Regions from separate parts of the Homo sapiens genome. Here regions 1 and 2 are each reported to be linked to region 3. The links are microRNA targets in miRTarBase. Many come from high-throughput screens and were not tested one by one. Region 3 holds a microRNA gene; each other region holds the end of a gene's coding sequence. Distances are from middle to middle.
What was found. The annotated mature microRNA hsa-miR-4775 reads UUAAUUUUUUGUUUCGGUCACU and lies in region 3 at 2,205-2,226, shown strand. An mRNA with a match to its seed (bases 2 to 7 or 8) in the 3' UTR can be bound and repressed. Matches are read on the target gene's strand: a 7mer-m8 pairs with bases 2 to 8, a 7mer-A1 pairs with bases 2 to 7 and ends in A, and an 8mer does both.

Region 1 (4,062 bases), not on the chromosome of region 3:
ACTCCGAGCGGCCCGGCGGGCTTCTGCACAGGCGGGTCTTCGTGGTGGTGCGGCCCAGCGACTCCGGGCTGCCCTCTGAGTCGGGCCCTAGCAGTGGGGCCCCCAGGCCCGGCCGCCTCCCGCTGCGGAATGGGCGGGTGGCTCACCACGGCTTGCCCAGGGAAGGGCCTGGCTGCTCCCACCTGCCCCTCACCATTCCAGCCTGGGATATCTGAGGGGGTCCAGGGAGGGCGGGACGCTGCCTCAGGGCCCCGATTGGACACGAGATACATGCAGGCGATAGCGGCCTGGTGTGGTTAGGTGAGGATGCGTGGTCCCTCCCTCTCCAGAGCCAGGCAGTGGTGGGCAGCTGCTGGTGATGTCTTCTCTGCTGCCTTCACCCTCAGTAGAGGCAAATGCGGGGGACGGGAAGGAACCAACTTGCCCTGTGTGGTGGGCTTGACAAACATCATCTCACTGAATTGTCACAACGCTTTGGAGATAGGTTGTCTTCTCTTCCTTCTACAGATGCAAAAACTGAGGCCTGGAGAGATGTGACTCACCCAAGTTTCTCAGGTGGAAATGGCATGTGAAGCTATCTGACTCCAATACCTGTGTGGTTTTTATCATCTCCAGCTGGCTCCAAGAGGGCCCGGTAAGGTAGAACACTGTGAACTGAGTAAGTCCTAATTAGGCAGCTAGGAAGAAGCGAAAAGCAAAGCCGGCCTGTCCCTTGATGCTTTGTGTCCATGTGAGGGAGTCCCTCATGTTCCGTTACTGAAGCCACTCCCCTTGATCCTTTTCTAGAAGAACACGGTGTGCCCCCGCTGCCGGCTCTAATGTGTTGGTTTGTCTTGTTTGTTCCAAGAAGTTCCAAGAAGCCATTGTCCTCAGAGGACGGCAGCTTCAGAACGAGCCTTGGGGAGGCTGCCTCAGTTGCAGGGCACTCTAGGTCTTGCCCTCTGGGTCTGAGCTTAGAGAACAGAGGAGGGACTCCCAGACCAAGGCAAGAACTTACAATGCCACAGACATTGTAATGCTGCAGGGCCACAGGAGGTGTCCTTTTACGTACTCATAGACAACGAGGAAGGGGAAGCACGGTATGCATTTTCCACATTGGGAAACACATCTGCTCACTGGGGCTGCAGGTACAAAGCCTTGCCCAAGGTCTCTCTCCTCCCTGCTTCCTGGGAGGGAGAAGTTGGTCAACTGAAGCTGCAGCCGGAGTGCCATTTGGAGACTCCTGAAGGACACACACTAAACTCTTCCCCAGCACAAATGACTTGTGTACTCTAAGGAGGTACCAGGAGAGCCCTGTTTACTCTGGCTTTCCCCCAACACCCCTGCATCAACTTGAAGAAATGTGGCTTCTTTCCAGGAGACGGGAGCACATGGGATTGCCTTGGAGGGTCCTTTCACAGGCCCCTTCATCTTGCACTTAAATGGACATTTCCCCCCACCTCTGTAGAAAACACGGTGTTGCTAGAAATTTAGTAAACAAAAAAGAAACGTTTCCAGGGGTCGGGGCTCTGAGGCTCTGTTCCCTTAACCGACACACAGTGACTGTTTACTGTTTGCTCCACTCTAAGTTCCAGGTTTAGGGGCAGAAGAAAATTCCTAAGCAGTTGTACAATACATTCTCCAAGCATGTCCCCAGACACCGTCTCATTTAATCCATAGTAATGAGGTTGAAGGAGATTGAATGTTATTGTCATTTCACAAAGTGACTGAAGCTCAAAGGGGCCAAGTTTCCAGGGCCACAGAGGGGCAGGATTTAGATTAAAATTTGTCTTCTGATTGTTCTTCCCACCCCACATGCTGCCTTTCAAGGAAGGTGGGGATGACGGGAGAGCTGGTAATTTCCCCAAAGGCTTTTTTGCCTAACAGTGAACCAGAATGCCCACTCCTGGTGCCCAAGCTCTTGGTCTGGGAAAGAAATCTATTGTGTTTACTCTCGTAATGTCCAGCCTGAGTTGTTCTTGCCCTGGTGCTGAGCAGGCTGCCAAGAGCCATCATGACCTTGTCCTGGTTCTGGGGGTGATGGATGAGGGTCTGAGAGAGAGTATGCCCTCCTGCCCCTCAGTGGTATTAGCTGGTGCCATGCATTTCTGGTACTGTATCAGTGTCATGTGTCATATGGGCCAGAGAGTTCCCAGCTGGTTCTGGGCTATTTGTTGTGAAGAAGTCTGACTCCAGGCTCTAAAAGTAAGCCAGAGAAAGGGCCGTCTCAAACCCAAAATGCCTATCCCTATGGCTGGGTGGGAATTGTCTGAAGACACCACCTGGTGTCTCCTCTGGGGTGTGTTTCTCCTTTAGCATAGCCTCCCCAAGTACAAGATCAGCATTTGAGGCTGGGGGCGGGTAGGGATACCAAAGTACTCACTCAAGCCAACCTTTCCATCACAGCCCCTTTGTCTTCCCCCAAAAGATGTCATGCTTTGAAAGGTTATAACTGCCCAAAAAACTCCTTCAGCTCTCGCTGAAGGTTACAATTAACATATTTTGCTGTTATTTTTGTTTCTTCTAAAAAATCAATCAGAGGCTATACCTGCCCATTCAGATCTGAGTGATAACAGGCATGACAATGCTTTAATGAAGCAGTGAGACATTGTGGGTATGTGGGGAGTTCGTTTCTTTGTGGATGTGGTAAAATATAAATAATATAGAATTTACCATTTTGGCCATTTTTAAGTGTACAGGACTGGAATTAAATATATTCACATTGTTGTGTAACCATTACCACTATCTATTTTCAGAATTTTTTATTATCCCAAACTGCAACTCTGTATCTATAAACAATATCACCGCATCCCCTCTCCTCCTAGCCCCTGGTAACTACTATTCTACTTTCTGTCTGTGAATTTGGCCACTCTAGGTACTTCTATACAAGAGGAATCATACAATACTATCCTTTTTGACTGGCTTCTTTCACTTAGCACAATGTCTTCAAGGTTCATCCATGTTGTGGCATGTGTCAGAATTTCTTTCATTTTAAAAGCTGAATAATATCCCATTGTCTAGATAGTCCTCATTTTGTTCATTCATCCATCAGTGGACACTTAGGTTGTTTCTATCTTTTGGCTACTGTGAATAATGTATGGAGTTTTTAGATGCTAGAAGTAGTTCCTGACAATAGTGCCTGTGTGAATCCTGAGGACAGAGACCCCAGGTTGGGAACCAGGGTCTCTCCCAACTTACCCTTTATGGCTGACAAAACAGAGGCTTCCAGGACAGCTGTGATGTGTCTCACTTCCCTGTGCCCACCCCAGCTGCTCTGGGCTTCTGCTGGGCTTTACTTCCTGACTAGAGTGGCTAGAAAATTGTATGTTTCCTCTACAAGATGTTTTTATGAAGCTATTTTATAATTATAGATTTATTATCCTCACTGGATTCCTATGTTCTGACACCTGGACCCTGACGGGGCCTTGTGCAGCCTAGGCGCCCACGGGCAAGTGGTGTGGACCATTCCTGACACGCCATCCTCCACCTCCAGGTTGGCTGGGTTTCCTAAGGTGACTGCCCTTTCATAAGCGGCAAGTTCGGAGATGAACGGCATGCGTGATGGGGGAAAAGGGCCAGAGGCCTGTTGACACTGAGCATCCCCACCCAGAGGGCCTCCTGGAGGGACTCTGTGTCCTGTCCTGCCATGTGCGGCATGAGTGGTCACCCTCATTGTGGCTCTCCACTGATGAATGGCCTCTTGACTTTACCAAGACCAGGCAGCACCCAACAGACCAATGTGAGCTGGAGGCGGATGCCGGGCCTGCACCCCACAAACCACAGTCTGCCCAGCCCTGTGCTGAGGAGTCTCTCTTGGGGCCTGGAGGACTCATGAGCTGATCTGCATTGGAATGGAGGGCGAAGTTGGCAAAGGAAGATGAGAGCCCCCCTATCATTAGTCTACTGTGTATTCATCCAAAAAGCAAGGCGAGAGCCAAGCCCAGAGCTGGATGGACAAAGGATTGCTATTAAGCTCTGTACCTTTTTGCACCCGTTTCCTCAGCTCACCCCTCAGAAGTGTCACTGATGAAAGATAGATGAGAAGGAGGCGGTCTAAATGGGCTTCATTACAATGAACAATGT
Region 2 (4,062 bases), 11 Mb from region 3:
CAGGGAAAATCTAGAGCCCATGTTTTTGCCCTGATTTCCCATAGTTCTCAGCTCTAGCTTCCAGGCTGCTTTCCCAGATACTGTTAGGTACCAGTTAGAGGCTCTGTCCTTGAGAACCACCTAGCCCATCTGGAGAAATACTGGGTGGAACAGGACACCACAATTCAGGAGCCTCGAACCAGGCAGGTGTTGTATAAGCCAGAGGAGGAGTCACCACGTGATAGCAGAAATACCTTTAGCCTTGGAAGTTCTGAGGATTGCTCTGAACCAGCCACCTGCCTTCATGGTGAGAGATAAAGGAACTGCTATCTGGGAGCCCTGAGAGGTATACACTGTGTAGGAGGAGCTGACAAATGAGGTAGTACTAAGAAGACGGTTTGAGCCTAGTCGGAAATTCAGGTACGTCTAGGCCATCCAGAAATTGTGAACAAGTGATTCTTCTATCTAACTTGGTACGTTGAATGTCCTTGTGGGCTTAACACTGATATTCCCGGGCATCCAAAGTATCCAATAGGAAGGAAGAGCTCGTGAAACCATTCTGTGAAAGCCAGATTTTAGCCGATGTCCTGTGGTTCCAGTGCCTCTGCTTAAGGAATCTAGCCCTTTCCACCTCTCATTTGGTGTTTCTTTGGGATCCCATCTAGTCTAGGAGTGTGGGGTGGGAGGAAAGGGCAGCCAGAAACTGACCTTCGCACTTATCTCTCCTTTTGAAGGGGGAAGACGTTTTCATCCCGCTAATCTTGGGAATAAGAGGAGGAAGCGGCTGGCAACTGAAGGCTGGAACACTTGCTACTGGATAATCGTAGCTTTTAATGTTGCGCCTCTTCAGGTTCTTAAGGGATTCTCCGTTTTGGTTCCATTTTGTACACGTTTGGAAAATAATCTGCAGAAACGAGCTGTGCTTGCAAAGACTTCATAGTTCCCAAGAATTAAAAAAAAAAAAAAAAGAATTCCACTTGATCAACTTAATTCCTTTTCTTTATCTTCCCTCCCTCACTTCCCTTTTCTCCCACCCTCTTTTCCAAGCTGTTTCGCTTTGCAATATATTACTGGTAATGAGTTGCAGGATAATGCAGTCATAACTTGTTTTCTCCTAAGTATTTGAGTTCAAAACTCCTGTATCTAAAGAAATACGGTTGGGGTCATTAATAAAGAAAATCTTTCTATCTTACATGAGAATTTGCTGGGTTTCTGGACTGCGAGTCCAAAGTGAGAAGAGAAGGAAGGAAGAAGGATAGACCTATACTACCCTTGAACCTGCAAACCTAAGCTGGGAAGCCCTAGTTTCAGGAGCCCATCAGGTTTAGATCCTCACCTTCCCTAGAGGAGAGAATGGCTGGCCAGTGAGCTATATTTAAACTTTTTTTTTTTCCCCCTGAGAGACAGGGTCATTACCTCCTGGGCTCGGGTGATCATCCCACCTCAGCCTCCCAAATAGCTGGGATTACAGGCGCATACCACTATGCCTGGCTAATTTTTTTTATTTTTAGTAGAGATGAGGTTTCGCCATCTTGCCCAGGCTGGTCTCAAACTCCTGGACTCAGGCAGTTTGCTTGCTTCAGCCTCTCAAAGTGCTGGGATTATAGGCATGAGCTATGGAACCCAGCGAGCTATTAATACAAACTTACATGCTTCCTTATAAAGCTTGGTCCCTGAGACTCTGTGGCTGCTCCTGAAGCTCCCTGGTCAATGACAGAGAAATTAAAGGGTTTTCTGGTTTATCTTTTTATTGTGAATAATGTGTGGAATTTCCCAAAATGTGTTCCTTAGTGTGTGGTCCTGCAGGACATTGATGAGTATTCAGGTGTGGGTCTGATGCAGACTAATTGGCCACAGTTTGTCTTTCTCACATGGCAGCCCAAAAGACTGCTCTCAGGGAGAGCAGTTGTCAAAAACAGTACAGAGCCTAGTAGAGCAGCTGTCCCCCAGCAGGACTCTGGTCCCTGAAATGAAATTGCTTCAGAAAGTTTGCTTGGTGTAAGGAATTAAGAGGAGAATTTTAGGGGCACCTGCAACGGTCTGATGGTCATTCTAATGGTTTCTGCCTTCCATCTATGGCAGTGTTTCATACTGGCTTGGGACCCATTAATTGTGGTGTGACTATATCACAACAAGCATTTTTGTTTTCTAAACTTTTGATTTTGAGATAACTGTAGATTTAAATACGGTTGTAAGAAACAATACAGAGAGATCCTGTATACCTTCCACTTGGTTCCCCCACCATGCTAACATCTTGTATAATTGTTGTATAACATCACAGCCAAGAAAAAATCATTAGTATAGTCCACACACCTTCAGATTTGGCCGGATTTACGTGCACTGTATGAGATGTACATCTGTGCATTTTTATCATACGTGTAGCTTTGTGTGACGCCAGCATTTTTAAGCAATTGAATAGTATCAGAGTGCATTACATCTGTTAAGGGTAAGTGTTGATGTGGAAACGTATTTTAGTTACATATGCACATCATGACTGGATTGTAGAAATGTCTCTTGACTGTGAGTCACAGTGGAGAATTTTGAAAACCACAGGTCGTTCAGTCATCAGACTTGATTTTATTTCACTAAAATGGGCTGCTAGAGAGCTCAAGGTACTCTGATTTCTAATTGGCTGCTCAGGGTGCCCCTGACCACTTACTTCTGGTACTTGGAAAACCTAGATTAATTGGATATATTGACAGCAACATATGCATTCTCTACCCCATGAGTTATTTAAGGGGTTTTCAAGTGTAATTTTGACTAGAAGCAGTTTTTGCTCTTTTTTTGTTTTAATTTTAGTTTTTAGAGACAGGGTCTCACTGTGTTGCCGAGGCTGTACTCAAGCTCCTGACCTCCGGAGTAGCTGGAACTACAGGCACCTGCCACTATGTCCAGCTGAGTTTTTGCTTTCTTCCTTAGTAGAACATAACTAATGTTGGAGCTCACTGTACTCTTTTGCCAGTAGTAGGAATCCGATTTCTGGTAAGTACTGTAGGTGACAGAACCAAGGTTGCTTAGAAGATATGGAGTTAGGAGAAAAATGAAAAGGCATAAATATTTTCTACAGCAGTAAATCCTAAGGAAGTAACTAGTTCCAAGACACTGTCAACATTAAAAATCCATAGTGCAGGCTGAGCACAGTGGCTCACACCTGTAATCGTAGCACTTTGTGAGGATGAGGAAGGAGGATTGCTTGATCCCGGGAGTTTGAGACCAGCCTGGGTAACGGTGAGACTCCTTCTCCATCTCTATAAAAATAAATCTGGCTGGGCACGGTGGCTCACGCCTGTAATCCCAGCACTTTGGGAGGCCAATGCGGGTGGATCACCTGAGGTCAGGAGTTTGAGACCAGCCTGGCCAACATGGTGAAACCCCATCTCTACTAAAAAAAAATTAGCTGGGCATGGTGGCGGGTGCCTGTAATCCCAGCTACTCGGGAGGCGGAGGCAGGAGAATCACTTGAACCCAGGAGGCGGAGGTTGCAGTGAGCCAAGATACGCCATTGCACTCCAGCCTGGACAACAAGAGCGAAACTCTGTCTCAAAAATAAATAAATGTGTAGTGCAGCCTGGACAACATGGCAAGACCCTGCCTCTACAAAAAATAAAAATCGGCTGGATGTGGTGGTGCATGCCTGTGGTCCCAGCTACTCAAGAGGCTGAGGCAGGAGGATTGCTTGAGCCCTGAAGGTCAAGGCTGCAATGAGCTGTGTCGTGCCACTCCACTCCAGCCTGGGCAACAGAGTGAGACCCTGTCCCAGAAAAAAGAAAAATCCATACTGGTGTAAACCCGTATCCAGATTGACTCTTCTCTTAACAAGGACACACTTGGCGTTAGTATGGATCTAGCCTCAAAGACCCTCGTCACAGATGAAGCAGCCCATCGTGACCAGTCGAGGCCTTAGGACCGCAGGAGGAATGTCTCAGGATGAGGGTCAAGCACACTGAGGGTGTGGGCTGGAAAAAAGGGATCTAGTTGTTTCTTCCTAGTCTCAGGAAGCCAGTGCCCCAAGGGTTCACACCTGGTAAGTGTAGGCGTCCTTGGATATGGGCTGTAGAGGAACAGTTTGAATCCAGGTGCCGC
Region 3 (4,068 bases):
TATGGCTTATGACTCTTGGTGAGTATACAGCAGAATTACAACTGAAATGGACACATATTTTAAACTAACACTTTCTGTGGTACCTTGGTGGTACTTTAGAATAATATGTATTTCTAGGCTGGGCTCAGTGGCACATGCCTGAGAGTGGCTCATGCCTCAGAGGCTCATTCCTCCCAGCACTTTGGGAGGCCGAGGCAGGCGGGATCACCTGAGGTCAGGAGTTTGAGACCAGCCTGGCCAACATGGTGAAACCCTGTCTCTACTAAAAATACAAAAAATTAGCTGGGTATGGTGGCACATGCCTGTAATCCTAGCTACTTGGGAGGCTGAGGCAGGAGAATCGCTTGAACCTGGGAGATAGAGGTTGCAATGAGCTGAGATCACTCCAGCCTGGGCAACGAGCGAAACTCTGCCTCAAAAAAAAAAAAGAAAAAAATAATAATATGTATTTCTACCATAATTAACGTGCATGTGAAGTAATACCTTTTGGCGCGTCAGTCATCAGACCGCTCATATGTTCCAGTATAGTCCAGCACACACCTGCCTCATTAAAATGTGCTTTGAGTATATAATAGCTAATAAGGATTGGGTAGAATTTGAATAGCTGAATAAACATTTTTTTGCACAAGTGTACGTTTGTTATATTTAAGGAATAAGTTAACAGATAACAGATGCTATTGCTGTTAGGAGCCCTATCACAATACCTTTGATATCTTTGGGAATCCAGTTTTTTAATAATATAATAAATTCCCCTTTGTTCTCTGGGAATCTAACCATAGCCCTTAAAGGATATTACCTTGGTGAACTGTCAGGAAGTAGTGTCCCCACAACCTGGCAGTGTAAAACTCAGCCAAAGTAGCTGTAACTGTGAACTATCTAAAGGAGTCCACATGTGTGGCTTTCACAATGGTGCTCTTTCAAAGGCGGGAACCCTTTTTAAAATTGTACCTGTTTTCTATTTGATTGACTTTCCTAGGCTATTTCTAGATTGTGTGAAGACAAAGACTTGTGTAGAGCCGCTATGAGAAGGTCTTTCAGTGCTGATAACTTCATTGGTATTCAGCGCTCTAAAGCCATCCTCTCTTAAAAGGAGAAATGAGGGGTTATAACGTCATGGGACCTTCATCTACAAAGACTGGAGAAATACCACCTTTCCTGCTCAAAAACCAGCAAAATTAGTGTTTTCATCAAAAGGAAAGATCTCAAATTCAAGAGACTCATGGACAACAAGGATTATACTCCACAGGAAAGAATGGGACCTTGTCAATGCAACAAAACACTCTTCTGTCCTTTTTAATGTAAACAGAGTTACAAAAACCACTCCAAAGTGAAGGCTCCCATCCTACACACAGATATTTGCTTACTGTGTGGGCCGATAGCTGTGAACTATGTAAGGTTTTTTAAACAATAGTTTAAATTTTTAGACTTTAAAGACACTAACCATATAACTTTTATGTTTCTTCCAGTTTCTCTCCCTCCCCCCGCATTTTGCTGCATATGCCTTTAAAATCAATGCAGTATTACCATTAAAACATGGGACTCTAACTAAAGCCACTTAGGAGCAGACAGCAGCGTTGTTAGGTACTGAAGGGTTCTTCCTCCCTACTGTTACCATTGAAGCTGCTAGTCATTGGCAATCATTTTAAACCAAAAAGCTGCTGGATAACATTTGTCATTCATATTCTTTGCAAGCATTACTTTAGCATTTTAGCATGTTTGGGGTCATAAACAGAGGAAGTATCAGTTATTGATATCTACTTCTATTGGAGTCCATGTTGCATTTCTTGTGAACTATAAATGGTGCTTCTCATTTTCTGATAATTTTTCTCTTGCTAAATAAATGTATTAAAAGATATTTTCATAATGCCAACCAACATGGTGGTTCAGTGACGATGAGAAAAAGTGAAGCAGTTTTAAGCTTGAATATAGTTTGGGCCCTCCAAGGCACTGCAGCATGAGTATAAATGCTATAAACCTTTAAAAAACATGATTTGAAAGTTTTTTGTTTTGTTTTGTTTGTTTTTAAAGAGATGGGGGTCTTACTGCGTTGTCCAGGCTGGAGTGCAGTGGCTTTTCACAGGTGCAATCATTGTGCACTCACTGCAGCCTAGAACTTCCTGGTCTCAAGCCATCCTCTAGCCTCAGCCACACAAGTAGCTGGGACTACAAGTGCAACTGGCACCTGTCTCCTGAATATTAAGCTTTTAATTTTTTGTTTCGGTCACTCTTGATAGCAGACATTGACTGAAACAAAAAATTAAAAGCTTTATATTCAAAATTTGCAAAATGAAGCTGGGTGTGGTGGTGCACGCCTATAGTCCCAGCTACTTGGGAGGCTGAGGCTGGAGGATTGCTTGAGGTCAAGTATTGGAGGCTGCAGTGTACCATGATGGTGCCTATAGGAATAGCTACTACACTCCAACCTGGACAACGTTATCAAGACCCCATCTCTTAGAAAAATGCAAAATTAAATGCAAAAGAAATGGGCTGGGCATAGTGATTCATGCCTGTAATCTCAGTACCCTGGGAGGCTGAGGTGGAAGGATTGCTTGAGTGCAGGAGTTCAAGACCAGTCTAGGCAACATAGTGAGACCCTGCCTGTAAAAAAAAATAATAAAAATAGTTGGATATGGTGGCATGTGTCTGTAGTCCCAGCCACTCTGGAGGCTAAGGTGGGAGGATCAGTAGAGCCCAGGAGGTCAAGGCTGCAGTGGGCCATGATCATGTCACTGCTCTCCAACCTGGGCGACATCCAGACCCTGTCTCAAAGAAAAAAGCAGAAGAAAAATGTTCAGACAAGGTTTTGTAAAGGTTTGTAGCATTTATATTTCTACAAGTATCAAAGCTTAAAATTACACTGAACTTTTGGAATACCTTGTATCTCCATAAAATGCCCTCTTTTTAAAAGTAGTTACCCGCAGAGCTGTGCTCTATATGCTTTGATTACCGCAGTTTCTTTAAAGGAAGATTTTGAAGAGCAGTGTTAATTAACATGTAATAAAAGGAATTGGACCCTAATTATAGAAGGTGATATGAACAGCTGTTTTATCATCCTACATGCTACCAAGCTGTAGGTGTCCCATTAAGTCCTGCTATTTAAGAAATACTTACATAACCCTTAGGAACTCTTCAGGCTTTAAAAGGCAAGGAGCAAATAATTTTAGGAGACCGATAATGTCACCTAAATTTGAAATACTAAGAAGAGGTTAGTGTTCTCAACTATGTGAAATCTGTTTCTCCTACTTTCTCAAATCTAATCCTAGGAATCTTGCTTATAAACAAAGCATTTCTGGGACAGGAGTACTTCCTCTATTATAGCAATGCTTCACATCATATTGTGCTGCAGTTTCCATCATTTTTAAAGGACAGAGACATAAATGATAAATAATGGTATACAAATATTACAATCTACCACCTCAAAAAAACAAATATTGTTTATGGAATTCAGAGTTTGGAGATTCAAGTATTGATTGCAGTTTTATTTTGAAAAGAATGCTACAATTTATGTGGTTTTTATTTCTCATGTTTATATTAAAAGCTAATAAACTCTATTTTAATTAAAATATGGCTAGTGTGTTTGTAACACTTCTATCCACATAGTGTTACATCTCTGCCCAGCCTAGTTTTAAGTCAATCCTGATATGTCTTAAAGCATTTTCAAACCAACCATAAGTTGATTTGATCCATGCCTCTAGTTAAGATGTAGTGATCCATTTCTTTTGCATATGCTCTTTTCAACCTGAAGATAATTTATTACACTTAAAATCACTGACCACAATACTTAATGGCATAGTGCATTAGATGGCATCTTGAATAGTTGGTTATCGTGTCTGAGAGGGAAAAGCACATTAGAATATAAAATTAAGCAAAATGTATCAAAGAGAAAGGAATTAAAGGAATAGCGTAGAATTAGAACAAGAGGTATTTGAGGTTTTCAGACAAACAGGAAAGAGAATGGAAAGACAGGAACTAGAATTTGTGTTGCTGTTGAGAGGATGTCTTAAGCCACATAATTTGACTTTAATGTGCTATTTTCAAGCTTACATTTCAGTTAAAAATATACCAAGT

Region 1: the mRNA of NPFFR1 is a reported target of hsa-miR-4775. The part of its 3' UTR that is shown has no 7-base or 8-base seed match.
Region 2: the mRNA of ARPC2 is a reported target of hsa-miR-4775. The part of its 3' UTR that is shown has no 7-base or 8-base seed match.

Annotation. Positions count from the first base shown.
Region 1 is chr10:70,251,110-70,255,171 of GRCh38, reverse strand. It overlaps NPFFR1 (neuropeptide FF receptor 1), which reads left to right. Exons shown (of 4, transcript NM_022146.5): 4 at 1-4,062. The coding sequence ends at 215. Among named protein-coding and RNA genes, the nearest start is that of PPA1, 20 kb to the right of the region's middle.
Region 2 is chr2:218,253,178-218,257,239 of GRCh38, forward strand. It overlaps ARPC2 (actin related protein 2/3 complex subunit 2), which reads left to right. Exons shown (of 11, transcript NM_152862.3): 11 at 714-1,171. The coding sequence ends at 738. Among named protein-coding and RNA genes, the nearest start is that of GPBAR1, 5.8 kb to the right of the region's middle.
Region 3 is chr2:207,752,612-207,756,679 of GRCh38, forward strand. MIR4775 (microRNA 4775) reads left to right here and starts at 2,196; the gene lies at 2,196-2,270. It overlaps CCNYL1 (cyclin Y like 1), which reads left to right. Exons shown (of 10, transcript NM_001330218.2): 10 at 977-3,563. The coding sequence ends at 1,087.